Linked DNA regions of Homo sapiens. The protein of the gene in region 2 purifies or fractionates together with the protein of the main gene of each other region. This does not show direct contact. Each region holds a gene or a part of one and is shown on either strand. Other genes may lie near its edges. The genes, in order: FBXO11, SOCS6, SAV1 and CUL5.

Region 1 (7,033 bases), on a different chromosome or scaffold from region 2:
GTGATCGGGCCACTGCACTCCAGCCTGGGTGACAGAATGAGACCCTATCTCCAAAAAAAAAAAAAAAAGATGTTCATACACCAGACTACCCTCTGACACCCTTTTTAACCTACCTGGTATCTCATGCACTATATTGAGCCGTTCCTCTTCATAGACACACTCCTTGCCAAGCTGCCTTCACCATATATGGTCTCTAACCATGTAGTACCAGTTCCCTTCCCACTCCTCTCAGCAAGTGGATATCCTCCTCACCTTTTTTTAAAAAAAAGTCTTCCACGGCTGGGCGTGGTGGCTCACGCCTGTAATCCCAGCACTTTGGGAGGCCGAGGTGAGTGGATCACGAGGTCAGGAGATCAAGACCATCCTGGCTACCACGATGAAACCCCATCTTTACTAAAAATACAAAAAATTAGCTGGGCGTGGTGGCGGGCGCCTGTAGTCCCAGCTACTCGGGAGGCTGAGGCAGGAGAAAGGCGTGAACCCAGGAGGCGGAGCTTGCAGTGAGCCGAGATTGCGCCACTGCACTCCAGCCTGGGCGACAGAGCGAGACTCTGTCTCAAAAAAAAAAAAAATCTTCCACATTTTATAGAAATCTAACATTTCTTTCATATAGCTATCCAGTTGGTTGGAATTTCATATAAAACTTACATCTGCTCCCTCCCGAATTTGAAGTTTTAAGAAAGTTTTCTGTATCCATAGAACTTTTTTTAAAAAGGGTATAATTTTTCTTATTGCTTTTGTTTATAACAGATGATGATGTGCCTGCAGATATGGTTGCAGAAGAATCAGGTCCTGGTGCACAAAATAGTCCATACCAACTTCGTAGAAAAACTCTTTTGCCGAAAAGAACAGCGTGTCCCACAAAGAACAGTATGGAGGTAACTTTAACTGTAGTTGCTTTTCTTTTTGTAATGAAAGAATTTTCAAGAAACAAAAAAGGGAATGTCATCCTTTTTTAGAAGTAATGATTATGGATGATAAGAATATTTGCTTTACTAGTTTCTGTTTTGTTTTTGAAGGGCGCCTCAACTTCAACTACAGAAAACTTTGGTCATCGTGCAAAACGTGCAAGAGTGTCTGGAAAATCACAAGATCTATCAGGTATTTCCTGTGGGAAAGTAACAAATAGGGTAAAATAATTTTTTTTAATTTTGCTTGATACCAAAAAATGAAAATTAAGTGTATTCGAGTATTACCTTTGGGATTCAGAAAGTGATTATTACAGAATAAACTTTAGAACCCTGACCTCTCCCTCTGACTTTTATTGTTGTATAAAAATGCTTTTTATGTATTTATTTTAACCATTTCTGAGATGGCACATAATACCTAAAAGAAGGAGTACTTTTGTTAGTTCAGGATAGAGATAAATATGTGTTACCCATGAAACCCACATGCTTATAAAATGACCATTATCCAAAAAAAAAAAGCTATTCATTAGATAAAATGAAAACTGTGTTCTTTAAATAATGAGAAAGTTATTGCTCGAATGATAGTTTATATGTTAATCTCTTTATAGCAGCACCTGCTGAACAGTATCTTCAGGAGAAACTGCCAGATGAAGTGGTTCTAAAAATCTTCTCTTACTTGCTGGAACAGGATCTTTGTAGAGCAGCTTGTGTATGTAAACGCTTCAGTGAACTTGCTAATGATCCAATTTTGTGGTAAGTAAAAACCTATTCCTTATTAACTTGAGATATGTTATTTGTTGCCCAAAATGCTAAACATGGTAGGAAAGTCGGTGCGGTGAGTTGGTAGTTACAATTAGTTGGAACAAAATTAAAATGCTTATCAATTCCAAGTTACAAATGGGGGCTGTCAGTCCAGGTGGTATTTATAAATCAGTAAATGAAGTCTTTTATCTGCTGTTTATCAGTTAATAGCAACTGATTGATTATGGGAAATGTTTTTCTTTTAGTAGCTTTTTAGAAACATAACAGTGTAATTTAAAATAGCTAATGAATTTTAAATCTGATAGATTAGAATGTAGGTTTTATATATCACTTTTGGAAAACAGTTGTATTCATGAATCTTTAAATAATTCATGCCCTTTGACCCAGTAATTACTGGGTCATGCCCTTTGACCCAGTAATTCTACTTCTGAAAAGTTTTTTTTGCTTTATGTACAGATTTTTCGTAACAGCCTAGTTAATAATGAGAAAAATTATAAATAATCTAAATATCCAGAATTAAGGGAATGAACTACATAAACTGTGTAATGTGTACTTGGAGAGTTGTGATATAACCACTAATAGTAATTTTTACAAAGAGATTTTCATTTGTTTTTTGAGAGACAGGGTCTTGCTCTGTCACCCAGGCTGGAGTGCAGTGTCACGCTCCTAGCTCACTGCAGCCTCAACCCTCTGGGCTCAAGCCATTCTCCCACCTCAGCCTCCTGAGTAGCTGGCACCACAGGCATGTGTCACCATGCCCAGCTAATTTTTTTTTTTTTTTTTTTTTTGAGACAAAGGGTCTCACTCTGTTACTCAGTCTGATCTTGAACTCCTGGGGTCAAGTGATCCTTCTACCTCGGCCGCCCAAAGTGCTGGGATTATAGGCATGAGCCATTGCACCCAGCCCAGGTTTTTAATAAGATGAAAAAAATGCTGTTATAAAAAGTGAAAAGAGGCCAGGTGTGGTGGCTCCTGCCTGTGGTCCCAGCTACTCCGGAGGCTGAGGCAGGAGGATCATTTGAGCCCAGGAAGTCAAGGCTGCAGAAAGCCGTGATCGTGCCACTGCACTGCAGCCTGGGCGGCAGACGGAGACCCTGTTTTTTAAAGAAAAGAACAGAGTACAAAATTGTATATGCTATATAATCACAACTATAATAAATGATCTGTAGATAAAATGAGTGGAAGCAAATATGGCAGACTGTTAATAGTTAATATATTGAAACTATAGTTCTTTACACTTCTTTGTTTTACAACGGTTATATGTATTACTTTTATGATGCACAAAAGGTGCACCATATATATATATGTTTTTGTTGTTGTTTTTGACGGAGTTTCGTTCTTGTTGCCCAGGCTAGAGTGCAGTGGCACAATCTTGACTCACTGCAACCTCTGCCTCCCGGGTTCAAGCAATTCTCCTGCCTCAGCCTCCTGAGTAGCTGGGATTACAGGCACCTCCCACCATGCCCAGCTATTTTTTGTATTTTTAGTAGAGACAGGGTTTCACCATGTTGGCTAGGCTGGTCTTGAACTCCTGACCTCAGGTGATCCTCCTGCCTGGGCCTCCCAAAGTGCTGGGATTACAGGCATGGGCCACTGTGCCCGGCCCACACCTTACATTTAAGAGAAAAATTACAAAGGAGAAATGAGAATGAAGAGCAGCAGAACAAAACAGCATTGCTCACTGTACCAGAAATGATAATAGTTAGCCATTACTCCAGTTTGAAGATTTCATTGTGCTTGATAGGATATAAATGGACTGAAGATATAGGACAAATTAAGTTCAAAGTATTTTTACTGAAAATTATCTTTTTAGGCTAGGCGAAGTGGCTCACGCCTATAATCCCAGCACTTTGGGAGGCTGAAGTGGGCAGATTACTTGAGCCCAGGAGTTTGAGACCAGCCTGGGCAACATACTGGGACCTCATTTCTACAAAAAAAAATCAAAAAATAAGACAAGAGGATCACTTGAACCTGGGAGGTTAAGGCTGCAATGAGCCATGATCACGCCTCTGCACTCCAGTGTGGGCAACGGGAGTGAGACTCTGTCTCAAAAAGAAAAAGAAAGAAAATTATCTTTTTAAGTGATAATCATGATGTTTTTACAGTAAGGATAACTTTTTTTCCCCTTCCTGAGTAAACAGTTTGTAAGGAAATTGAAACTTTTTGTTGTTCTGTGTGGACAAATTTTCATACGCAGTTACATTGTGAAAATTTTTGCAGGAAAACTAATTTTCGGCCAGGCATGGTGGCTCACGCCTGTAATCCCAGCACTTAGGGAGGCTGAGGTGGGTAAATCACTTGAGCTCCAGAGTTCGAGACCAGCCTGGGTAACATGTGCCTGTAGTTCCAGCTACTTGGGAGGCTGAGGTGGGAGGATCATTTGAGCCCAGGAGGCAGAGGTTGCAGTGAACTGAGATCGTGGCACTGCACTCCAGCCTGGGTGATAGAAATAGACTATGTCTCAAAGAAAAAAAAGGAAAAAAACATAATTTCCATATGCAACTACACTGAAAATTTTAAATGTGAAAAATACGTTTTCACGTTTTAAATCCTGTTTTTAGCTGTGCGTGGTGACACATGCCCATAATCTCAGCTACTCAGGAGGCTGAGGCTTGAACCTGGGAGAGGGAGGTTGCAGTGAGCCAAGATCATGCCACTTGCATTCTAGCCTGGATGACAGTGAGACTGTGTCTCAAAAAAAAAATCCTGTGATTTAATATTCATTTTTGTCTATTCTTACTTTCTTACTCAAGTTTTTGAGGCCTCAAATAATTGTTATAGTTGTTCAAAACTGTATTAATCTAAAGGACATTTTATCAAGAAAATTTTAATTCCTTTCTCTGTTCAGGAAACGATTATATATGGAAGTATTTGAATATACTCGCCCTATGATGCATCCTGAACCTGGAAAATTCTACCAGATTAATCCAGAAGAGTATGAACATCCAAATCCCTGGAAAGAGAGTTTCCAGCAGTTGGTATGAAATATAAATAGAATATATTGGTTTATATTATACATTTGTAAATAACTTTCTTTTAAGAAATAAGTTTAGGCTGGGCGTGGTGGCTCACACCTGTAATCCCAGCACCTTGGGAGGCCGAGGTAGGAGGATTACCTGAGGTCAGGAGTTCGAGACCAGCTTGGCCAACATGGCGAAACTCCATCTCTTCTAAAAATACAAAAATTAGCCGGACATGGTGGCGCACACCTGTAGTCCCAGCTACTTCGGAGGCTAAGGCAGGAGAATCACTTGAACCCAGGAGGCAGAGTTGCAGAGAGCTGACATTGCACTGCTGCACTCCAGCCTGGGCGACAGAGTGAGACTCTTGTCTCAGGGAAAAAAAAAAAGTTGAGTAGGTTTTAATGAACATTTATCAACCAACAGAATATTCAGCAATTCTTTTCACTACTGACATATCCCCCCATTAATAAGTTAGTACAGTAAGCATTAGTAGCCTAAGAGCAGTTGTGATTTCAATGGGTCTGTTTGAACTTGTATTTAAATTATTAGTGTTCAGCATTTGTTTTAAAGTTCCACATTTAGCTTAATTGTTATACGGCCCTTCGTGAGTGAGTCTCAGCTGGAGATGATTTTGCTTTCTGTGGGACATTTGGCGATGTCGGGAGACATTTTTTGATTGTCACAATGGGAGGAGAGTGTGCTGCTGCTATTTGGCTGGGTGAGGCCAGGGATACCTCTAAACATCCTACAGTGCACAGGACAGCCCCCATAACAAAGAATTAACTGACTTAAAATATCAGTAATGCTGAGATTGAGAAACCCTGTTCTTTGTTTCTGGATATTACCGGATCATAACTTGTTTTAGATTTTACATTGTACTCTGACAGAAAATTATTTGGAATAGTTGAGAATTATTTTTGATTTGTAATAAAAGTTGTTCATGCAATTGTACATTAATTTAAATATAAGGTTTATGTTAGTAGTCAATGGTTTTGTTTTGTTTTTGACATTTTAGTATAAAGGTGCACATGTAAAGCCAGGATTTGCTGAACATTTCTACAGTAACCCTGCAAGATATAAAGGAAGAGAAAATATGTTGGTATGTTTGATTTTTATTTTTATGACTTAAAATGGTAATCTTTCAGTTCTGTACTGACACATTTATTTTTTTCTAGTATTATGATACTATTGAAGATGCCCTTGGTGGGGTACAAGAGGCTCATTTTGATGGACTTATCTTTGTTCATTCTGGAATATATACTGATGAATGGATATATATTGAATCTCCAATCACCATGATTGGTGCAGGTATTTTGAAATGCATTGTCATTAAAATTTTAATATTTTACTCATTTATGTGATAGGATTTTAAAAATGCTAGTGACTTAAAATCCAGTTTTATAATATCCTGCTGGTAAAGTAGGAATGAAGATATCACACATATTTTAAGTGAAGGAAGTGAAAACATAAGAGTTCAGAAATTATAGCTGTATATAAATTCTTTCTCCCCGCCCCCCCCAACCTTTTTTGTTTTTTTGATGCAGAGTCTAGCTATGTCACTCAGGCTAGAGTGCAGTGGCACAATTTCAGTTCACTGTAACCTCTGCCTCCTGGGTTCAAGCAATTCTCATGCCTCAACCTCTCAAGTAGCTGGGATTATAGGCATGCACCACCATGCGTGGCTAATTTTTGTATTTTTAGCAGAGATAGGGTTTCGCCATGTTGGCCAGGCTGGTCTCAAACTCCTGGCCTCAAGTGATTTGCCCATCTCGGCCTTCCAAAGTGCGGGGATTACAGACATGAGCCACTGTGCCTGGCTGTATATGTTTCCTAATGTTAGTACTTTCTCCATTTGCCTTGAGTTATTCATTAAACGAAGAAAAATAGCTTTTTCATCTTTTATTTGAAAATAAAGATGCAGCCAGGTGTGGTGGCTCACACCTGTAAACCCAGTAGTTTGGGAGGCTGAGGTGGGTGGATCGCTTCAGGTCAGGAGTTAAAGACTGGCCTGGCCAACATGGTGAAACCCCATCTTTACTAAAAATACAAAAAAAATTAGCCAGGTGTGGTGGTGTGCACCTGTAATCCCAGCGACTCTGGAGGCTGAGGCAGGAGAATTGCAAAGAAAGATGCTAATATTTCTATTGCTATGTTTTTAAAGGAACTGAAATAGAATTTTTAAATACTTTTGTACTATTTCAAAGCTATTTATGGTCAGGTTTCTAAGAATAAATGTAATATCTGTCAAACACTGAGTCATTTGAAGATTTGTGGTTTTTTTATTTTGAGGATACAGTACATAGAACATTTTAAGATAGCTAGTAATTATTATTTGCTAGTGAAATTTGCATTTACAGCCTCTTTTGCTTTCTTCCTCTATCTCCTCATGAAGATGGGGAG
Region 2 (7,033 bases):
TGTTGCCCAGGCTGGAGTGCAGTGGTGTGATCTCAGCTCACTGCAGTCTCTGCTTCCTGGGCTCAAGTGATTCTCCTTCAGCCTCCAGAGTAGCTGGGATTATAGGTGTGAGCCATAATGCCTGGCTAATGTTGATATTTTTAGTAGAGACGGGGTTTCACCATGTTGGCCAGGCTGGTCTCGAACTCCTGGCCTCAAGTGTTCCACCCACCTCAGCTTCCCAGAGTGCTGGGATTATAGGCATGACCAATGGGTTTGAATGTTATAGAGTAAAAAAATTTTGTGTTATGGTTTTAGATTTTACAGGGCAATTTATCATTAAGAAACTATTATTCATTGAGTTTTGATATAGTATCAAAGAAAAATATCCATAGTTATATGAAAAGGTTATTAAATAAAATATATTGTTCCTTTTTCCAACTATGTATCTGGAGGAGGCTGAATTTTCTTCTTACAGGTAGTCCCCTATGCACAGTTTCAATTACCACAGTCGATAGTCATCTGAAGACAGCTAAGTGCAGTACAGTAAGATATTTTGCGAGAGAGAGAGTCCACATTCTCATAGCTTTTATTACAATATTTTGCTATAATTGTTTAATTTTATTATTAGTTATAGTTATTAATCTCTTACTGTACCTAACTTAAAAATTAAACTTTATCATAGGTATGTGTGTATAGGAAAAAAGCAAAGTATACTTGATATAGGGTTCTGTACTATATGTGGTTTCAGGAATCCACAGGGGATCCTGGGATGTATCCCTTGCAGATAAGAGAGGGCTACTGTACTGTAACAGATTCAGTGCAGAAGTAGATATGAGAGTCTAGCTGTCTTCCTTTAGTCAGGCAGAAGAGATTTACAGTAATGTCATGTGGTACCACTTTCACTGATTTTTATTATCATTCATGAAAATGTTATTTATGTTAACATGTAATGAGTATATTGTCATTTTAAAATAAATATAAAATTAGGCTGGGCATAGTGGCTCATACCTGTAATCCCAGCACTTTGGGAAGCTGAGGTAGGAGGATTGCTTGAGGCCAGGAGTTCAAGACCAGCCCGGGCAACATAGACCTCATCTCTACAAAAAGTAGACAAAATTAGCCAGGCGTGGTGGTGCGTGCCTATAGTACCAACTGCTCAGGAGGCTGAGGTGGGAGGATCTCTTGAACCCAGGAGGTTGAGGCTGCAGTGAGCCGAGATCATACCACTGCACTCTAGCCTGGCCAACACAGCGAGACTCTGATTCTGTGTCTTCAATAAATAAATAAATAACAAATTTTCTCAGTTTTTTTTTTTTTTTTTTTTTTTTTTGACAGAGTTTTCGCTCTTGTTGCCCAGGCTGGAGTGCAGTGGCGCAATCTTGGCTCACTGCAACCTCTGCCTCCCAGTCTCAAGCAATTCTTCTGCCTCAGCCTCCTGAGTAGCTGGGATTACAGGCACACGCCACCATGCCTGGCTATTTTTTTTTTTTTTTTTTTGTATTTTTAGTAGAGATGGGGTTTCACCACGTTGGCCAGGCTGGTCTCCAACTCCTGACCTCAGGTGATCCGCCTCGGCCTCCCAAAGTGCTGGGATTACAGAAGTGAGCCATCATGCCCCGCCTCTCGGTTTTATTTTCTAGTAGGGTACATTTCAAGAGATGCAACCCACATAAACAATGCTTCTTCCTGTCTTCCAATAATTTTTAAGAGAATAAAGGGGTTCTGAGACCAGAATGTTTGAGAACCACTGATGTAAGCAGTAGAATGACAGGTAGGACAGGTTGGCATAGGGGAAGAATGTGAGCTTTGCAAATAAACAGCCAGGTTCAGATTCTGGATCTGCTGTTGCTAGTAGCAAATTGTTTAACTTTGTTGGGCAAATTCCAGTCTCTCTGATAACCAGTTTCCTCATTTTATAAAATGGGGATAATAAAGCTGTTTTGTTTATTGAAGGTTAAGTAGTTGTTTGATCTTTTTAATTTTTTCATTATGTGTTATGATGACTGACAGACATGACTACCTCAAGTCATTTAAGAAAAGGTTGAAATTATTTGAAGAAGTTATCCTTTACCCATATGGATAAAGTTTATGTCTAAAGCTTTTTCCCTTGAAACTTTATATACATTTTCAAGTATATGTATAAACTTAAAATTTTACAATTAGAAAAGCAGTAAAACTAATTCAGAACATTTACTTAGGCACGAGACAGATGGTAATCCTATAAAAAGATGGCATATATTTTTGGATGTGCAAACAGAAAAACAGATACTCTTAAAAATTTTAGAGTAATCTTTGCCTAGAATATGAAGGGAAGAGATAAAAGACCATATGGCCTAATAGAACTTTTATAGTTTGTAATGTCTAGGATTGAATTTTGTTTCTTTAATATTAGTATTGATTAATAGCTTACTAATATGGATTGGTAGTTGAAAAAGGAATAATTTTCAAGCAGGTAATTGCCAAGTACTTTTACCGTGGTTGCTAGTCTCTCGTGTTTTGGGGTATGGGTGTGATAGTGGGAAGCACAACTATTTGAATCTCACATTTAGTAGGGTTAATCAGTTACTGATTCTGGCAGTTATAATAGTTCATTATGCTTGGGTAGAAGACATGCTACTAAGACACTGAGTTCACCTAATATACAACTTCATTTATTATTTAAAAGTAACTGGTGCTTCAAATATTTTAAGTTTTTTATTTTTTACAACTTATTCAGAAACATAGTACATGACAGTAGACTTTTAAAAATTGCTTCTTCCTTTTGGGGACATGATAGTACTGATCCCCTGATAGGTTGTCTAATCTGAGTGGTTTTTAGTAAGAATGATTCCATCTGCACACCACCCGAATCCTATCTGTAACTAAAAGGGGACAATTGTCAGGTTCTCTCTCTCCTGTCAGTTCCCACCTTGTGTACCATTATATTACTGAAGGGTTGATACTACAGTTTATCTGTTCATACATCTGTCTCTCCTACTGGATTAGGTGACCATCAGTTATTCATCAATCTGTGTATTGCCACACAGGGCTGAGCCAAGCTGACTCAGCAGAGGCCGAGTAGGGGCTTAGTAAAGGCAGAGTGAATTCATGAATGGGATCAAAGCTAGAGCCATAGTCTTGTGCCAAGAAACTGAGTGGCGCTAAACTGCTGATTTGGGAGGTCAGAATCTTGTTCTGGGCTTTATTAGCATTTCGCTCAAGTCAAGCGAATCACCTTGTCAAGTCATATGCAGAGAAGGCAGAACATGACGTTGGAGGAAAGAAAACATTCTACACAGTTTAAACACAGGGCCTTTGTAAAGTAGTGTTAGGATCACTTAACGTGGTTTATGGAACCAAGATTTTTTGCTGTGAAATGACTTTCAGAAAGTCTTTACAGAATTGAAATCCTGTCATTTCAGTGTAGAACAATGTACAAAAAAAGTTTAGAAAATATATTTCTGGATATAGAAGTAAAAATTTGCCATGGGAAATTGCAAAAAAAGAAGAGTAAGCAATAATAATTCTGGAAATATGTTTCATAATCTTCCAAATAGATCAAAACTAGACACATGGGTTTTTATGGGTGTACTTCAGAGATGAAGCTTTTCAACCTGCGCGCATTGAGCTTCTTCCTCCTCTGTGCATTGGGAACTTGAAGGTAAATGATTCTTGTTCTCAAGGAATTCTCGAGTATAGAGGAACATCTCTAGATAGTTTATTACAGATAATGAAATTCTTTTTGTTTATTTTGACACAAGCTTAAGTATTTAAAATATGCATCAGTTGTTGAGTTGACTAGGCTTGTTATTGCAGTTCTATGGAACGCCTTTACTGTCGTGCCAGGACACAGGCTGGGACATGGCAGGCAGCGGAGGAGCAGTCGGAGTCAGTGCTGAAGGAGTGCACAGGTCTAGCTAGAGTCCAGCTGGGAAGGATGTGGACACTGGCCCACACGTTAGAGTTTATACCAAAAAGCAAGGTGCCAAAAGAACAAAAGGTAGATGCAGGCTTGTTCTTTATAAACATCATCGGGCGGGGCATGGTAGCTCAGCCTGTAATCCCAGCACTTTGGGAGGCCGAGGCGGGCGGATCATAAGGTCAAGAGATCGAGACCATCCTGGCTAACACGATGAAACCCCGTCTCTATTAAAATACAAAAAACTTAGCTGAGTGTGGTGGTGGGCGTCTGTAGTCCCAGCTACTTGGGAGGCTGAGGCAGGAGAATGGCGTGAACCCAGGAGGCAGAGCTTGCAGTGAGCCGAGATCACGCCACTGCACTCCAGCCTGGGCGAAAGAGTGAGACTCATCTCAAAATAATAATAATAATAATAATAAAGTAAACATCATCAAATACTTGCCAAATGCTCATTGTGTAGTAGGCAGTGATCTGCTCTGCTGGGTGCAATAGAAAGAAAGCCCGGTCCTAACAGAGCTGACATTAAGAAAAGACTGGGGTGTTCTCGTTCAGAAGTTAAAGGATTAAAACTGACTAAAACAAAACTTTTGTGGAAATATTTTTTAATATGACTCTTTTTATATTTTTATTTTTTAGAAAATGGCTCCAAAGGTTAAATGAAGCAGGAAAAATACATAGATGCAGCCTTGCAGCCTCTCCAGATGTTTGGGGATAATATTCCAGATAGAAATATTGATCCCTTGGATTAGGTAACTAGTCATAATGAAGAAAATTAGTCTTAAAACCTTACGGAAATCTTTTAACTTGAATAAAAGTAAAGAAGAAACTGATTTCATGGTAGTACAACAACCATCGCTAGCCAGTGACTTTGGAAAAGATGATTCCTTATTTGGTAGCTGCTATGGTAAAGATATGGCCAGCTGCGATATCAACGGTGAAGATGAAAAAGGCGGAAAAAACAGATCAAAAAGCGAGAGCCTGATGGGTACGCTAAAAAGGCGGCTTTCTGCAAAACAGAAGTCAAAAGGCAAGGCGGGCACACCCTCTGGGAGCTCTGCCGACGAGGACACCTTCTCCTCCTCCTCAGCACCCATAGTCTTTAAAGACGTGAGAGCTCAGAGGCCGATAAGGTCCACGTCGCTCCGCAGCCATCACTACAGTCCCGCGCCGTGGCCTCTGCGGCCCACAAACTCCGAGGAGACCTGCATCAAGATGGAGGTGAGAGTCAAGGCCTTGGTTCACTCTTCCAGCCCGAGTCCAGCCCTGAATGGCGTCCGGAAGGATTTCCACGACCTCCAGTCTGAGACCACGTGCCAGGAGCAAGCCAATTCACTGAAGAGCTCGGCTTCTCATAATGGAGACCTGCATCTTCACCTGGATGAACATGTGCCTGTCGTTATTGGACTTATGCCTCAGGACTACATTCAGTATACTGTGCCTTTAGATGAGGGGATGTATCCTTTGGAAGGATCACGGAGCTATTGTCTGGACAGCTCTTCTCCCATGGAAGTCTCTGCGGTTCCTCCTCAAGTGGGAGGGCGCGCTTTCCCCGAGGATGAGAGTCAGGTAGACCAGGACCTAGTTGTCGCCCCAGAGATCTTCGTGGATCAGTCCGTGAATGGCTTGTTGATTGGCACCACGGGAGTCATGTTGCAGAGCCCGAGAGCGGGTCACGATGATGTCCCTCCACTCTCACCATTGCTACCTCCAATGCAGAATAATCAAATCCAAAGGAACTTCAGTGGACTCACTGGCACAGAAGCCCACGTGGCTGAAAGTATGCGCTGTCATTTGAATTTTGATCCGAACTCTGCTCCTGGGGTTGCAAGAGTTTATGACTCAGTGCAAAGTAGTGGTCCCATGGTTGTGACAAGCCTTACAGAGGAGCTGAAAAAACTTGCAAAGCAAGGATGGTACTGGGGACCAATCACACGTTGGGAGGCAGAAGGGAAGCTAGCAAACGTGCCAGATGGTTCTTTTCTTGTTCGGGACAGTTCTGACGACCGTTACCTTTTAAGCTTGAGCTTTCGCTCCCATGGTAAAACACTTCACACTAGAATTGAGCACTCAAATGGTAGGTTTAGCTTTTATGAACAGCCAGATGTGGAAGGACATACGTCCATAGTTGATCTAATTGAGCATTCAATCAGGGACTCTGAAAATGGAGCTTTTTGTTATTCAAGGTCTCGGCTGCCTGGATCTGCAACTTACCCCGTCAGACTGACCAACCCAGTGTCCCGGTTCATGCAGGTGCGCTCGTTGCAGTACCTGTGTCGTTTTGTTATACGTCAGTATACCAGAATAGACTTAATTCAGAAACTGCCTTTGCCAAACAAAATGAAGGATTATTTACAGGAGAAGCACTACTGAAAGATTGAGAACCCTGCATCTTGCACTTTGGGAATAAGAACAAGAGATTGAAATACAGTTTACAAACTTTCATTGCCATCAAAATCTTTTGCTGCCATAACTATTTCAGTTTTATGTGTAAAAGAGTCATCAGTTTGTTTAGGGGTGGGGAAGTGTCAGCAAGGTGTCTTGGGTTTATTTTGGTTCTTTAAAAAAGGGAAGTCTTGAGGTTTTAGAGGTGTGAATTATGTTTCATCAATGTGCAGAATAATCACAATGTGAATTATCAAATTCTCCTCAATGCCCCCCCCGCCCAGTCCTTTGCTGCTATCCACTGTGATTTTTATGCATTAAAAGCACATTTCATGTGTATTCAACCCTAAGTAAAGTTGAATGAAACTTAACAGAATGGAAATTGCTATGTCTTTTTAAATGGTCCATTTTCAAAAGACAGTGTTGAATAAACATACCTGTGTGATAAAACACAGAATTTACATATACACTGAAGATGAGTTTTTAATCTCTTACTTTAAAAAGATTTATTTAGAATCGTGAATTGACATAATCTTGGGTAATGGAACGGAGATCTGCAACATATCTTTTAACAACACTTTTTTCTAAATTATTTCTAAGGTTGTGCTAATTCTTTTGGTTGTGAAAAGTTGAATTTTTCTGTTGCCTTCGTTTTCATCTTCTAGTTTGTCTATTTTAATAAATGGCCTTACATTAAAAAATTGTAAAGAAATGTATACCACCAATTTAGAAATTGTTGCCTTTTCTGTAATTAAACTCGGGTACAAATTG
Region 3 (7,033 bases), on a different chromosome or scaffold from region 2:
TCTGGTTCCCGATATTATTATTCAGACAATTTTTTTGATGGTCAGAGAAAGCGGCCACTTGGAGATCGTGCACATGAAGACTACAGATATTATGAATACAACCATGATCTCTTCCAAAGAATGCCACAGAATCAGGGGAGGCATGCTTCAGGTAGCTTAACATTATAAATAATATAGTAGTTTATATTTATTGACATGTCAATTAAAAAGATGTTCTTTTCTAGATTTTCTTGGGACACGAACAAATACTACTAGCGAAATGTTTTTCCACTTTGCTCATCCTGCTTAAGCCTGTGTGCAAATAGTTGTTAATCTACACTGAATGGAAGAGTCCTTGTGACCATTTATTTTATTAACTCATGTTATGTAAACTTGGTATTTATCTCAAGGCTGTCTAGACTCTTAATGCTGTGACCCTTGAAAACCTAGAGAATTTAATGTCTCCAGTTGGGCTGAATTTAGGTTTAGGTTTGGTAGAATAATGGGAAGGGTAAGTCTTCAGAGACACTTGACGGAGTCCTCAGAGACACTTGACAAACTTGGGAAAGGAAAGAAGAGTAGGAACAACTGGGCATGCTCAGTGATACCCTGAGCAACCACATTACTTCGCTAGATCCTGCCCTTTTTCTCAACAAAAAGTAGTTCAAGAATTATTTCCTGAGTTGATCAAAAAGACTTATTGTCATATGGTTAATTATGTGTTGAGCATGTCTTTTTATTATTTTTGTAACAGACAAAAAAAATTACCATATAATTTAAGAAAAGAAGGTACTTTCCATATCTCCTGAGTTGGAGATACTTCTGAAAGGAGCAGAAGAGATGGGAGAAATGTACAATTCTACTTTATTCCTGAAGTCCTGGTTTTACCAGATAAAATGAAGTGAGATGAAAATTAAACTTTCTTGTCTGATTTTTTTTTTCTACCAAGTTATAGACTTTAAATTTTGGCAGGATAAAAATAAAATGTGAGACAGATTTACTTTTTGGCTCACATAACTTCAAATAAGGCGACTTAAAAATGGTTTGGAGCATTAGTATTTTGACTGTAGAAAAAATTTATTCATTTAATATTAACTGTTTATGTGTCTAGCGTTTTCCTTGGGTCTGTTGGTCTCTGCTTTCTGGTACCTTATTTGTCTAGTACCTTATTTGTGGAAACAAAACCAATCTATACACAATGGTCACAGAAAAATTGTTATACTTTGTGATACTAACTGTAAGTGCAACAGGGAATCAGAAGAGAGATGAGTATAGGCTGGAATACTTAAAGAGATGATTCATGGAAGAGGTAGGACTTGGAGTGGGCCTTGAGCTTGGCCTTTAGATTAACAAGGGCCAGAAGAAGGACATTTTACGTGGAAAATTGGGAATAGCACAATGAAAACAGAGTAGGCATGGTTTAAATATAAGGAACAGTGTAGTTCTGCCTGGTTTGAAGAAATAAGATGTAAGGTTGAGTGGAGATTTGTGGTTCAACAATAGGCTTAGATTTGAGTCAAGTGGAAGCTCTTGCACATTTCGGAAAGACAAGTGATTTTATGAAAGCAGTGTTTAAAGATTAGTTTTGTACTAGAATTAAGGGTAGATTCCTAGAGAAAAGAGGATTGCAGGTACCAGTGGGTACCAGTGGTAATAGGAAAACGCAAATCTAGGATGCTTTTAAAGGAAAAATGAGAATTAGAGTTTAGGAGAAAGCAGATCACTGAAGTTTTAAAAATAATGTGGAATAGTTGGTAAGAACAACTTATTTTATGAAAGCTGACATCAGAGTCTCACTGGAACATTGTAGAGGAGAGGTTTTCTAGGCATGTGGAAATGCAGTAAGAGGCATGGGTAAAAGCACCTTTTAGTTTTTAAGGAATTAGGTTAAAGAATTAGCTGCATGCTTGAGTGTTTATTTTGGTTATTTCTGATATGCAGTTCTGAACCTCAGGAATAATTTGTTATCTAACTAAAATAGTAAGTTTTAAAAATAAAGCTCATTTATATTTTCTTCTAGAATAATAACTGCTTATTACAGGAAATTTGCAAAATGCAGAAACGTAAAGGCAAAGTACCTGTCCACCAGAGATCCTCTTAGTATGTTATTTTCTTCATCTTTTTCCATGCCAAATTCTTTTTTTACATGGATGTGATTATATAATATTTTGTACAGTTTTCTGTTCTTTTTACTTGAATGATTTTCTTCATGTTGTATACTTTTTATGAGTGGTTTTAATGACTGCGTAATCTTCCATTTGGTGCATATTCAGTGGTTAATGAGGACTTGACCTATACTTCAGAAATTTGGAAAGAGGAGAAGTGGGACACGCCCACATTAATGGGACTTGGCCACTAACGGGGTTTGAAGGACAAAGGAGAGGGAAGAGTCAGATAGGATTAGCACAGCACATGACTGCCTAAGAGATGCTCACAAAAATAAATGGCTGAATGAGTGAATGAACCCAGCGGTTTTAAATCTGGAGGCTTAAGACAGTTTTTGGTAGCTGAGGGAGAACAGAAATAGCTATGTTTACTGTTAATATAGAATATGTGTTATTCTTTGCGTTCACCTTTCCCACCTATATTGTAGACGTCACTGATAGCTTGTAATACTTTTCTACCTGAGGTTTAAGTATGTAAATATGAGGAATTAATAACAAGTTAAACTCTTGTTTTGAAAATCTAATTTGCCAAATATAATTGAGGAAATACTATAAGAACTAAATCTCTACTGATCCTCTCTTAGGAGCAATTTGAGATAATTTTTCTAAGTTTAAAGACAGACTTTAAAGCAACTTTCCAGTCACAACTTCAAAATAAAGTACAAGTTAATTGCATACGTTTTCAGATTCAAGTATGTCATTAAAAAAATAAGATTTCAGGCTGGGCACGGTGGCTCACGCCTGTAATCCCAGCACTTTGGGAGGCCAAGGAGGGTGGATCACGAGGTCAGGAGATTGAGGCCATCCTGGCTAACACGGTGAAACCCTGTCTCTACTAAAAATAAAAAAATTAGCCGGGCGTGGTGGCAGGCGCCTGTAGTCCCAGCTACTTGGGAGGCTGAGGCAGGAGAATGGTGTGAACCCGGGAGGCGGAGCTTGCAGTGAGCTGAGATTGCGCCACTGCACTCCAGCCTGGGCAACAGAGTGAGACTCCGTCTCAAAATAAATAAATAAATAAATAAATAACAAGATTTCAAAACACTGATGAAAGAAATTGAAGAGCACAAAAACAAATGGAAAGACATCCCATGCTCATGGGTCAGAAGAATTAACATCATTAAAATGACCATGTTGCTCAAAGTAATCTACAGATTGAATGCAATCCCTATTAAAATACCAGTCATTTTTCACAGAAATAAAACAATCCTAAAATTTCCACAGAACCAACAAGGAGCCCAAATACCCAAAGTAATCCTGAGCAAACCGAACAAAGCTAGAAGCATCACACTACCTGTCTTCGAAATAAGGCTATAGTAACCACATACAAGGTTATAGTAACCACAAATAAGGCTATAGTAACCACAATAATATGGTATTGGTATAGAAAGACACATAGACCAATGGAACAAAAATAGGTAATGCAGAAATAAATCCACATATTTACAGCCAACTGATTTTTTTACAAAAGCACCAAGAACGTGCATTGGGAAAAGGACACTTTCTTCAATAAACGATGCTGGGAAAATTGGATATCCACATGCAGAAGAATGAAATCTGACCCTTGTCTCACCATATGCAAATTCAACTTGAGATGGATTAAAGACTTAAGACCTGAAATTATAAAAGTACTAGAAGAAAATGTAGGGGAAACACTTCAGGACATCGATCTAACAAAGATTTTATGGCTAAGACCTCAAAAGCACAGGCAACAAAAACAAATAGACATATGGGACTATATTAAACCAAAAGGCGTCTGCACAGTAAAGGAAACAACAGAATGAAGAGACAACATATTGAATAGGAGAAAGTGTTTGCAAAAGATTCATCCAGCAAGGGACTAATATCCAGAATATGCAAGGAAGCCAACAGTAAGAAAAACAACCCCATTAAAAAGTGGGCAAAGGACATGAATAGACGTTTCTCAAAAGAAGACATACAAATGGCCAAAAGGTATGTGAAAAAATGTGCAACATCACTAATCGTCAAGGAAATGTAAGTGAAAACCACAGTGAGGTGTCTTACCCCAGTCAGAATGGCTATTGTTAAAAAGACAAAAAAATATACTACTGGTGAGAGTGTGAAGAAAAGGCAACTGTTACAGACTGTTGGTGGGAATGTTACAATAATTAGGACAGGCACTATGAAAAACAGTTTGGAAATTTCTCAGAAAACCGAAAACAGAACTACCATATGATCCGGCAGTTCCACTGCTGGGTATCTATCTAAAGGAAAAGAAATCAGTATATCAAAGAAATACCTGCACTCCCATGTTTATCATGTCATTTGCAGCAGCTTGAATGGAACTGGAGGTCATTATATTAAGGGAAATCAGGCACAGAAAGAGAAGTGTCTCATGTTCTTACTCACATGTGGGAGCGAAACACATTGATTTCATGGAGATAGAATGATAGCAGAGGTTGGGAAGGATGGGAGGGGAGGTAAAGAGAGGTAGGTTAATGGGTCCAAACATAAAGTTAGATGGAATAAGTTCTAAGGTTTGATAGCAGAGTAGGGTAACTACAGTTAACATTTTGAAATAGCTAAAAGAGAGGACTTGAAATGTTCCCAACACATAGAAATGATAAATACTCACGGTGATGGATACCCTAAATACCCTGACTTGATTATTTCATACTCTTTGCATGTATCACAATATCACATGTACCCCATAAACATGTGCAAATAATTATGTATCCAAAAAATGCTATAAAACAATGTTACCACCTGACTGGGCTCTTGTCTGCTATCCGAATAGAGCAGAACACTGAGACAGCAGATACTGTAAAGAAGAAAGAGTTTAATTATTGCAAGGCAGCTGAGTAAGGAGGATGGGAAATGTTTCTCAGAGTCATCACCGCCAAGACTGGAGAAGCTAAGATATTTAAAGATGATTTGGCAGGCAGGGGGCTAGGGGATGGGTGCTGGTGATTGGACTGGTATGAGATCATAGGGTTATCAATGCTGTCTTCATGTGCTGAATCAGTTGCTGGGAAATTGGGGAGTCACAAGACCAAGTCAGTTCCTTGGTTGAGTTCATGGAACACTGGTCCATTTGGTGTCAGTTGGTCCACTTGTAAGCAAAGTCTGAAAAATATCTCGAAGACCAGTCTTAGGTTTTACAGTAGTGTTTGTGACTGCCAGTTACTATGGAAAGAAAGCTGGGAAAAAATGGCAGGTTACTGTTTAAACCTATAGCTTAGCAGAAGAGTTTGCAGGAGGTGAGATCACCAGTGATCAAAGTGGCCTGGCCTGTTTGGCCAGTCCAAATTCTGGAAACTATCAAGGGGGTCTGTGTGATCTAGGATCATTGTTTTCTTGTTCTTCTCTTCTATTTTCTTTTTTGAGACAGGATCTTGCTCTGTTGCCCGGGCTGTAGTGCAGTAGCATGATCACAGCTCACTGCAGCCTCGACCTCGGGCTCAAGCAATCCTCCCACCTCAGCCTCCTGAGTAGCTGGGACTACAGGCATGCACCACCACACCTGGCTAATTTTTTGTATTTTTAGTAGAGACTGAATTTCAGTGTTGCCCAGGCTGGTCAAACTCCCAAGCTCAAGCAATCTGCCTGCCTTGGCCTCCCAAAGTGCTGGGATTACAGGCATGTGCCGCAGCACCCAGTCTGGATTATTGTTCTTTAAAAGAAACAGGTTTGTTAATCTTATGGGCAGCCTGCCCAGGGGCTGCCACAGGAAGACAATTATTAGTGACTGCCATTTGTTGAAATGACTTTGCAAGCAGTCATACATGGAGGTGGAAAAAGAGAAGGAAAATATTTTATCAAAATTCGGGCCCCTACCGTAATTTTAATCTTGAGGGTGTTTTTAATTTTATGAGGGAGGCTTCAGCAGGAGTCAGCAAGCTACACCCATAGGCCAGATAGACTTGCCTCCTGCAATACAGTAGTTTTATTGGAACACACATGCACTGAAATAAGATTTGATTTCATGGAATAGCCAAGACCTTGTTTTAATGAGACAGTAGACTTCTGCCTTCGAAGTCTCATCCCAGGCTCTTTTATATCAGATTGCGTTAGGTTTAAAGAAGGTTGCAGGTAGTTGAAGAATCTCAGGTAATAAGGTATCTCTCCCAACCAAAAAAAAAAAAAAAAAAAAATTCTTTACAGCAGTTGATACACTGCTTGAGAGCTTGAGAGACTTCATTTGATAAGATTAATTTTTATCAGGGCAATATAGATTTAATGTTTTACCTTGTAGAAAAAAGTAGTACTTTTTTTGAAGGAATCTCTAAAGTTGCAGGGAAAGATTAATAACCAATTACATGCCAAACAGAAAAGCCTAATAACTGCCTCTTCCACAAGGGAAAAATCTGAATATGAGACAGTAGCTGAAAGTTTCTTGAATTCACCTTGAGAAGACTTAAAACATATTTTTAGGATTTATGCTGAATAAGGTTCAAGGAATTTGAATGAATAGAAAGGAGAAAGTAAGTTTGTAGGAGGATAGGATAGGTTTGTGCGATAGATCTATTTTCAGAAACATTGAATTTTGATTGTCATAAGCATAAAAAGGTTGGAAAATTTGTTTTGTAATGACTTAATGGCAATAGTAATTCCTGTCAATTAGTTATTAGATTTTCAGGAAACACCTTGTGTCAAGGGTTAAATTCAGCTTATTGTATTTAGTAGAAGCACAAAAACAAGTTGTATAATCTCAGAAAGTTTTAGAGCCTAGAAAGTTCTACGTTTAGCTGTAGAACTTTCAGATTAGAAAATTTGACCTTTAATGTTCTTGGCCGCATACCAGTCACGCACTTACTGTATGTTCCAAAGAAAGGAATCCTGCTGTTAACAGGAAGTCTTTAGTTGGAATACTAAAGGCAGACTGAATTCCTTTGTTTTGCGCTTAAATTTTAGTTCTGTCTCGAAAACAT
Region 4 (5,397 bases), on a different chromosome or scaffold from region 2:
GCTTACTGCAACCTCCACCTCCCAGGCTCAAGCAATCCTCTTTCTTCAGCCTCCTGAATAGCGGGGACCACAGACACACGCCACCATGCCTGGCTAATTTTTGTATTTTTTATAGAGATGGGGTTTCGCCATGTTGCCCAGGCTGTTCTCAAACTCCTGGACTCAAGCAATCCACCCACATCACCCTCCCAAAGTGCTAAGATTACACACATGAGCCACCACACCCGGCATATACATGCCTTTTGTTGGGTAAAGAGAGAGCTGGTACTGGAAAAGGTAAAAGAGAAAAGAATATTTAATGATTTTCTGATAACTCTTATTGTAAACTTAACAGTAATTAAGGAAATCATCAAGAAAAATTTTGATAAAATGACCTAGATGAAAAAGATTTATTTCTTTAGAAACTTAAAAGTGACTGGGCATCGTGGCTTACACCTGTAATCCTAGCACTTTGGGAGACCAGGGCAGGGGAGTATTTGAGTCTGGGGGTTCAAGACCAACCTGGACAACATAGCAAAACCTTGTGTCTGTATTTAAAGAGAAGAAGGGGAAAAAAAAAACCTTAAAAACATTTAATTGAGTCAATATAAACTGAAGATAATATTTGTAGCAAATATAATTAATTAATCTGGTAAATATATAAAGAGTACTACTTAATGACTTTTAAAACAGACCCCACCTGACCTGTACTGCTATACAAAGAAATAACTGAATACAAGGGAAAAATTTGGTGTAAGGGGTTTGTTATATTTTAATTAATGTTTAACATGATACCAGGTTATATACACATTGTTTTCACAGGTAAGATAACTTTTAAGAATGTGAATGGCATGGGAAAAAAGGAATTGAAGGAAATAATATTAAAACATTAGGTGTAGTTTTCTTTCAGCAGAGAAGCAGAGGTAATTTTGCTTTTCCTTATTTTTCAAAATCTCTATAGTCAGATTTTTTTTAAATACATACTTTAAGTTCTGGGATACATATGCAGAATGTGCAGGTTTGTTACATGGGTATACACGTGTCATGGTCATTTGCTGCACCCATCAACCCGTCATCTACATGAGGTGTTTCTCCTAATGCTTATCCCTCCCCTATCCCCCCACCCCAATAAGCAGATTCTCTTTTATGGGGCATGAGAAAACAAAAGATGTTTTTATTTGTTAAGTAAAAGATACTAGTCTCAACATTAATCCCCTAGTGATTATTATTCATTTGGGTAGATGTTGGATAGAGGATGAATATGCATAAAAAGTCATTTTTCAGTTTGTTGTACTTAAAATAATTTCGTATATTAATGCGCTTTTATTTTTATTTTTTCTTTTAGGAAGCTATCATACAAATAATGAAAATGAGAAAGAAAATTAGTAATGCTCAGCTGCAGACTGAATTAGTAGAAATTTTGAAAAACATGTTCTTGCCACAAAAGAAAATGATAAAAGAGCAAATAGAGTGGCTAATAGAGCACAAATACATCAGAAGAGATGAATCTGATATCAACACTTTCATATATATGGCATAATTTTGAATATCATGGACAATATTTAGAACCCAAATTTTGGAGTGCTTGGGCAGAAAGTTGTAAAGTTTGTGCTGGAGAAAGGTTTATTTGGACTTTGATTACATAAATATTAAAATCTCTGCCTTACCTTACAAAAACAACTATATTTTGCCAATCACATTAGTTAGCATGATGGCATTCCCTTCATGTTGCACACTCTTTGACAGCATGCTGTTTTGTGGAGAAACTTGCATTCATGAAGAGCCCATTATCAACTTTTAAAAGTGAATTTGATTTGTACCCACCAGGAGAAATACAGTTGGGAAGGGTGAGGGTGGGGTTCTTGTTGCTTTTTTCTCTTTTTTCCTCTCTTAAAAAATGTACTTGCACAAGGAAGGATCTTCAGATATTCATGCACTGAAAAATGCTGTTATCTTTTGTTTTTAAAAAATGCAATTAAAACTAGAAATAGCACTCTTGGTTTCTTTTGATGAAAAGAGTGAGCTGGTCAATGCAACATTGGGAAACGGCAGATGTAGGTGAGAAGTTAAGTATTTAATAGTATCAAATTGTTCAAACATTGCTCAGTATAATAACTGGATTTTAATGGTGACCTAAAAATGGTATTAAATATTTTCAACTTTCAAATGTTGGTTTTCTTTAAGCAGGAGACTGCTATTTTAGTTGTTGTTAAATGATGAGGAGTTTTTTTTTTTTTAAATATGGCTGGAAAGCTTGTTTTGAAAAATGAAGCTTATATTAATTGTTGCTTCAATAGTTTAAAAAATTTATGGAGATAGGTAGGTCATTATGATTGCAGAGCCAAAATAGCAAAACAAACATATTAAGTGTGTTTACTAAACATATTGTGTGTTTACTAACACACTTAATGTTTATATACCTAATATTTATTATGCCATATCTGAATTTATTAAAAACAACACAGAAATCTCCTGCTCTGATATAGTTATGTAACTGATCTCTTAATCTGTAGCATAGAAGTATTTTGGTATTTTAAGGTCTCATGATTAGGGATTTGTAGCCTCAGGTTTGAATCAGTCACCTAGGGGTAAGAGAAAAACCACAACATAAGACCTGAAAAACAGAAGCAAAATTGTTGCACTCTTAATACGAGCAGTAAACTTGCCAAATATATGTACATATATATTTATATATTTTAAAAATAAACATTTTTTAAATCGTCAGAAGGCAACATTTACCATGTTCCTTTCAGTCTATCCAAAGTAGCAACTTAACTAGTTGCTGGCAACTGAATACCCAGAGTAGTGGAAATTTTAGGACTTGAGGACGTGAACAACTTGAAAGAGAAAATTGATTCCCCTTGAGGAAAGAATGGCTCAACGTGGATTTTTATTCATTGTGGTGCACGTTTCAAATTTTCTTGCAAATTATTTTATATCTTATTTGATGTTAAGTAATATTTTTAAAGTATGGTTTTTGAAGATAGTAGGAAATGGAGTACAGAAAGGCATACAGTATTATGTTACAGTGGAGTGCTTTCAAGAGCATTTCGTAGGATCTGTCCCCATCCGAAGAGGCTTTGTGAACTGCCTGCTGAATGGAAGGAAAGCAACTTTAAAACATTTAGAGTTTTGCTGAGTATAGCCAAATGCCTGTTCTGAAACTTATAGGAAATTGGAATTTTGTTTAAAATTTTACACTTTAAGGTAGCAAATGTCAATTATTAGACCGAGCATATTGTGAAGAATTAAACTAAAATTAATACGTACAGTTTTCTCTAATTAGGTGACTGTTCATAATGGGTATATTTGGAATTTAGAAGAAATAATTTTGTAGTAATTGTGGCCCTTATGTTTAACAGATAATTCAGCATTGGCGTATTTGCTTGTCCCAATACAAGAATGCCAAAGGAGGAAACAGGAAAAATTGCCGTCCATTTTAAAAATTTAGGTTTGTTGTTTTAAACCATAATTGTTCTCAGAACTTTTTTGGAACTTCTAATTTTGGGTCATTTAATTTAAGAATGAGAGTCATGATGTTTTGATTTATGAAGGTGAATTTAATGCAAAAGTGGGTAACACTACATTCATAGCAAAGTTTTTTATTAAATTTTATAAATTTTTAATAGCCAATTATGTCCTAATTGTATTTTGGGGAATGAACAGCAGCAAATACTGTAAATGTACAGTTTTCTTTTTTTTTTTTTTTTGGTTATGTATACAAAAGTTTTAACTACTTTTTGGTGTTTATGAAAATCATTTAGTTGACAAGGTGCCTATGCCATTGTTAAATTTTCTTTAAGTAATTTAACAACAGATTTGCTAATTTAAAAAAAAATGAAAAAAAAAATCTTACCAGCAGTTTGTAAAGGTCTGGAATCACAGTTGGCATCCTTTATTCAGGTCTCTTCTCTCCAGCGTACACTTAAAATTGGTGCCGAGCAGGGATATAACCTGCAGTTAAGTGAAAAGAAAATCCAGCCTCCCCCTCCAAAAAAAAAAAAAAAATTTAATTTTTAAAAATTAGTGGTATGGCAATAAGACACTTCAGAGGCTATCTTAACCTCTGAATACCCATCTTCTAGTTTAAAGACAGAGACATCCCATCTGGAAAATGTTAACTTGTGTTGCCATCTCGTTGCCGGAGTAAGTAGACATAAGACAGAGTTTAAGAAGTAAAAATATAGAAAAATTTTGATGGTCACAATGAGATAAATATTAGAATATTACTATTCCAATGATTAAATGAGGATCTTGAAATAAATTCTGAAGTCTTCCAATTTTTACATTTATTGGAGGGGTCCCTGAGTTCTGTCAACTTTTTTATTTAAGTCTCTTGCTCTTATTTTGTGCATAAATGTTAAACCTTCCAAAAATGAAATGTTAGCTTTCTTTCTTTTACTTTTTATTAAATTTAATAGAAAATATGACCTGAGTAGTTAAAAAGTATTTTGCATTATTTGCAGTAAGATGTCTCTAGCACTGCTCAAAGGGCAAATTTTAAAACTTCAGTCTGGGTGAAAGATTTGCTAGTTTTACAGAAAGATTTGCTATCTTAAACTCAAGCTGGTTTTTCTGTTCTCATGTAAGTGACTGGGATGCTGTCTTATGAATTCTTCCAAGGTCATGTTTGTGAAATAAACATTACATGAGAGCTTTCCTGTCATCTACACTATATGTTGTCTGGAGTGTTGAACAAATTTATTTTAGTTTCTAAGTTGTAATCTATCCTCATATGGTCTATACGATTTTGAATGTGTGCCACTACATACTGAGATGATAATGCTGTACAATTTTAAGTGGTAGCAGTTTCTGTATGCAGTAGGCTGAAATATTTTGATGAACTGCTTAATTTTTGGATTTTATTTTTTAAGTTGTATAATTTATTTTCTTGCAAAATAAAAATGTAATATAAAAGCTTTTACCTATCCAGAAAATGTTGATGTTCTACTATAAAATAGTTACAAAGAGTTTAATTAAAATTTTTATAGTAGGTATATTTTTAAATTTGAAGGTAAATTAATCTCAGCCAGCCTTAGGAATCAGAAATATGAAAAGTAACCCACTTATTTATATTAGACTTCAAATTCTAATTCAAAATGAGAGCAGTCAGGAATGTAGCTTTTCCACTGATGATAGCATGTGGCTATATGCCTGGAAGAGGTAATAAAAAAAAAAAAATTCCAACCTGAAAGTGGTTAATATATTCATCAACTAAGATAGGCTATGTCATAACAAAATTCAAATTTTATAGCAGATAAAAGTAAAAAATGGGCCGGGCTCAGTGGCTCACGCCTGTAATCCCAGCACTTTGGGAGGCCAAGGTGGGTGGATCACCTGAGGACAGGAGTTCAAGACCAGCCTGGCAAACATGGTGAAACCCTGTCTCTACTAAAAATATAAAAATTAGCCGGGTGT

What was found.
Region 1: the proteins of SOCS6 (region 2) and FBXO11 purify together in Homo sapiens (affinity purification with mass spectrometry; 3 studies listed by BioGRID and IntAct, with this or other methods). This does not show direct contact.
Region 3: the proteins of SOCS6 (region 2) and SAV1 purify together in Homo sapiens (affinity purification with mass spectrometry; 3 studies listed by BioGRID and IntAct, with this or other methods). This does not show direct contact.
Region 4: the proteins of SOCS6 (region 2) and CUL5 purify together in Homo sapiens (affinity purification with mass spectrometry; 7 studies listed by BioGRID and IntAct, with this or other methods). This does not show direct contact.

The regions. Positions count from the first base shown.
Region 1 is NC_000002.12:47,833,487-47,840,519, reverse strand, and holds part of FBXO11 (F-box only protein 11), read left to right. Parts: intron 1-750; coding exon 751-878; intron 879-1,019; coding exon 1,020-1,101; intron 1,102-1,516; coding exon 1,517-1,661; intron 1,662-4,518; coding exon 4,519-4,648; intron 4,649-5,648; coding exon 5,649-5,732; intron 5,733-5,808; coding exon 5,809-5,941; intron 5,942-7,033. UniProt on the Homo sapiens protein: Substrate recognition component of a SCF (SKP1-CUL1-F-box protein) E3 ubiquitin-protein ligase complex which mediates the ubiquitination and subsequent proteasomal degradation of target proteins, such as DTL/CDT2, BCL6, SNAI1 and PRDM1/BLIMP1.
Region 2 is NC_000018.10:70,320,027-70,327,059, forward strand, and holds part of SOCS6 (suppressor of cytokine signaling 6), read left to right. Parts: intron 1-1,576; exon of another isoform or gene 1,577-3,622; intron 3,623-4,516; 5' UTR 4,517-4,642; coding exon 4,643-6,250; 3' UTR 6,251-7,033. UniProt on the Homo sapiens protein: SOCS family proteins form part of a classical negative feedback system that regulates cytokine signal transduction.
Region 3 is NC_000014.9:50,658,297-50,665,329, reverse strand, and holds part of SAV1 (protein salvador homolog 1), read left to right. Parts: coding exon 1-151; intron 152-7,033. UniProt on the Homo sapiens protein: Regulator of STK3/MST2 and STK4/MST1 in the Hippo signaling pathway which plays a pivotal role in organ size control and tumor suppression by restricting proliferation and promoting apoptosis.
Region 4 is NC_000011.10:108,102,866-108,108,262, forward strand, and holds the end of CUL5 (cullin-5), read left to right. Parts: intron 1-1,324; coding exon 1,325-1,519; 3' UTR 1,520-3,341; coding exon of another isoform or gene 3,342-3,422; 3' UTR 3,423-4,896; downstream 4,897-5,397. UniProt on the Homo sapiens protein: Core component of multiple cullin-5-RING E3 ubiquitin-protein ligase complexes (ECS complexes, also named CRL5 complexes), which mediate the ubiquitination and subsequent proteasomal degradation of target proteins.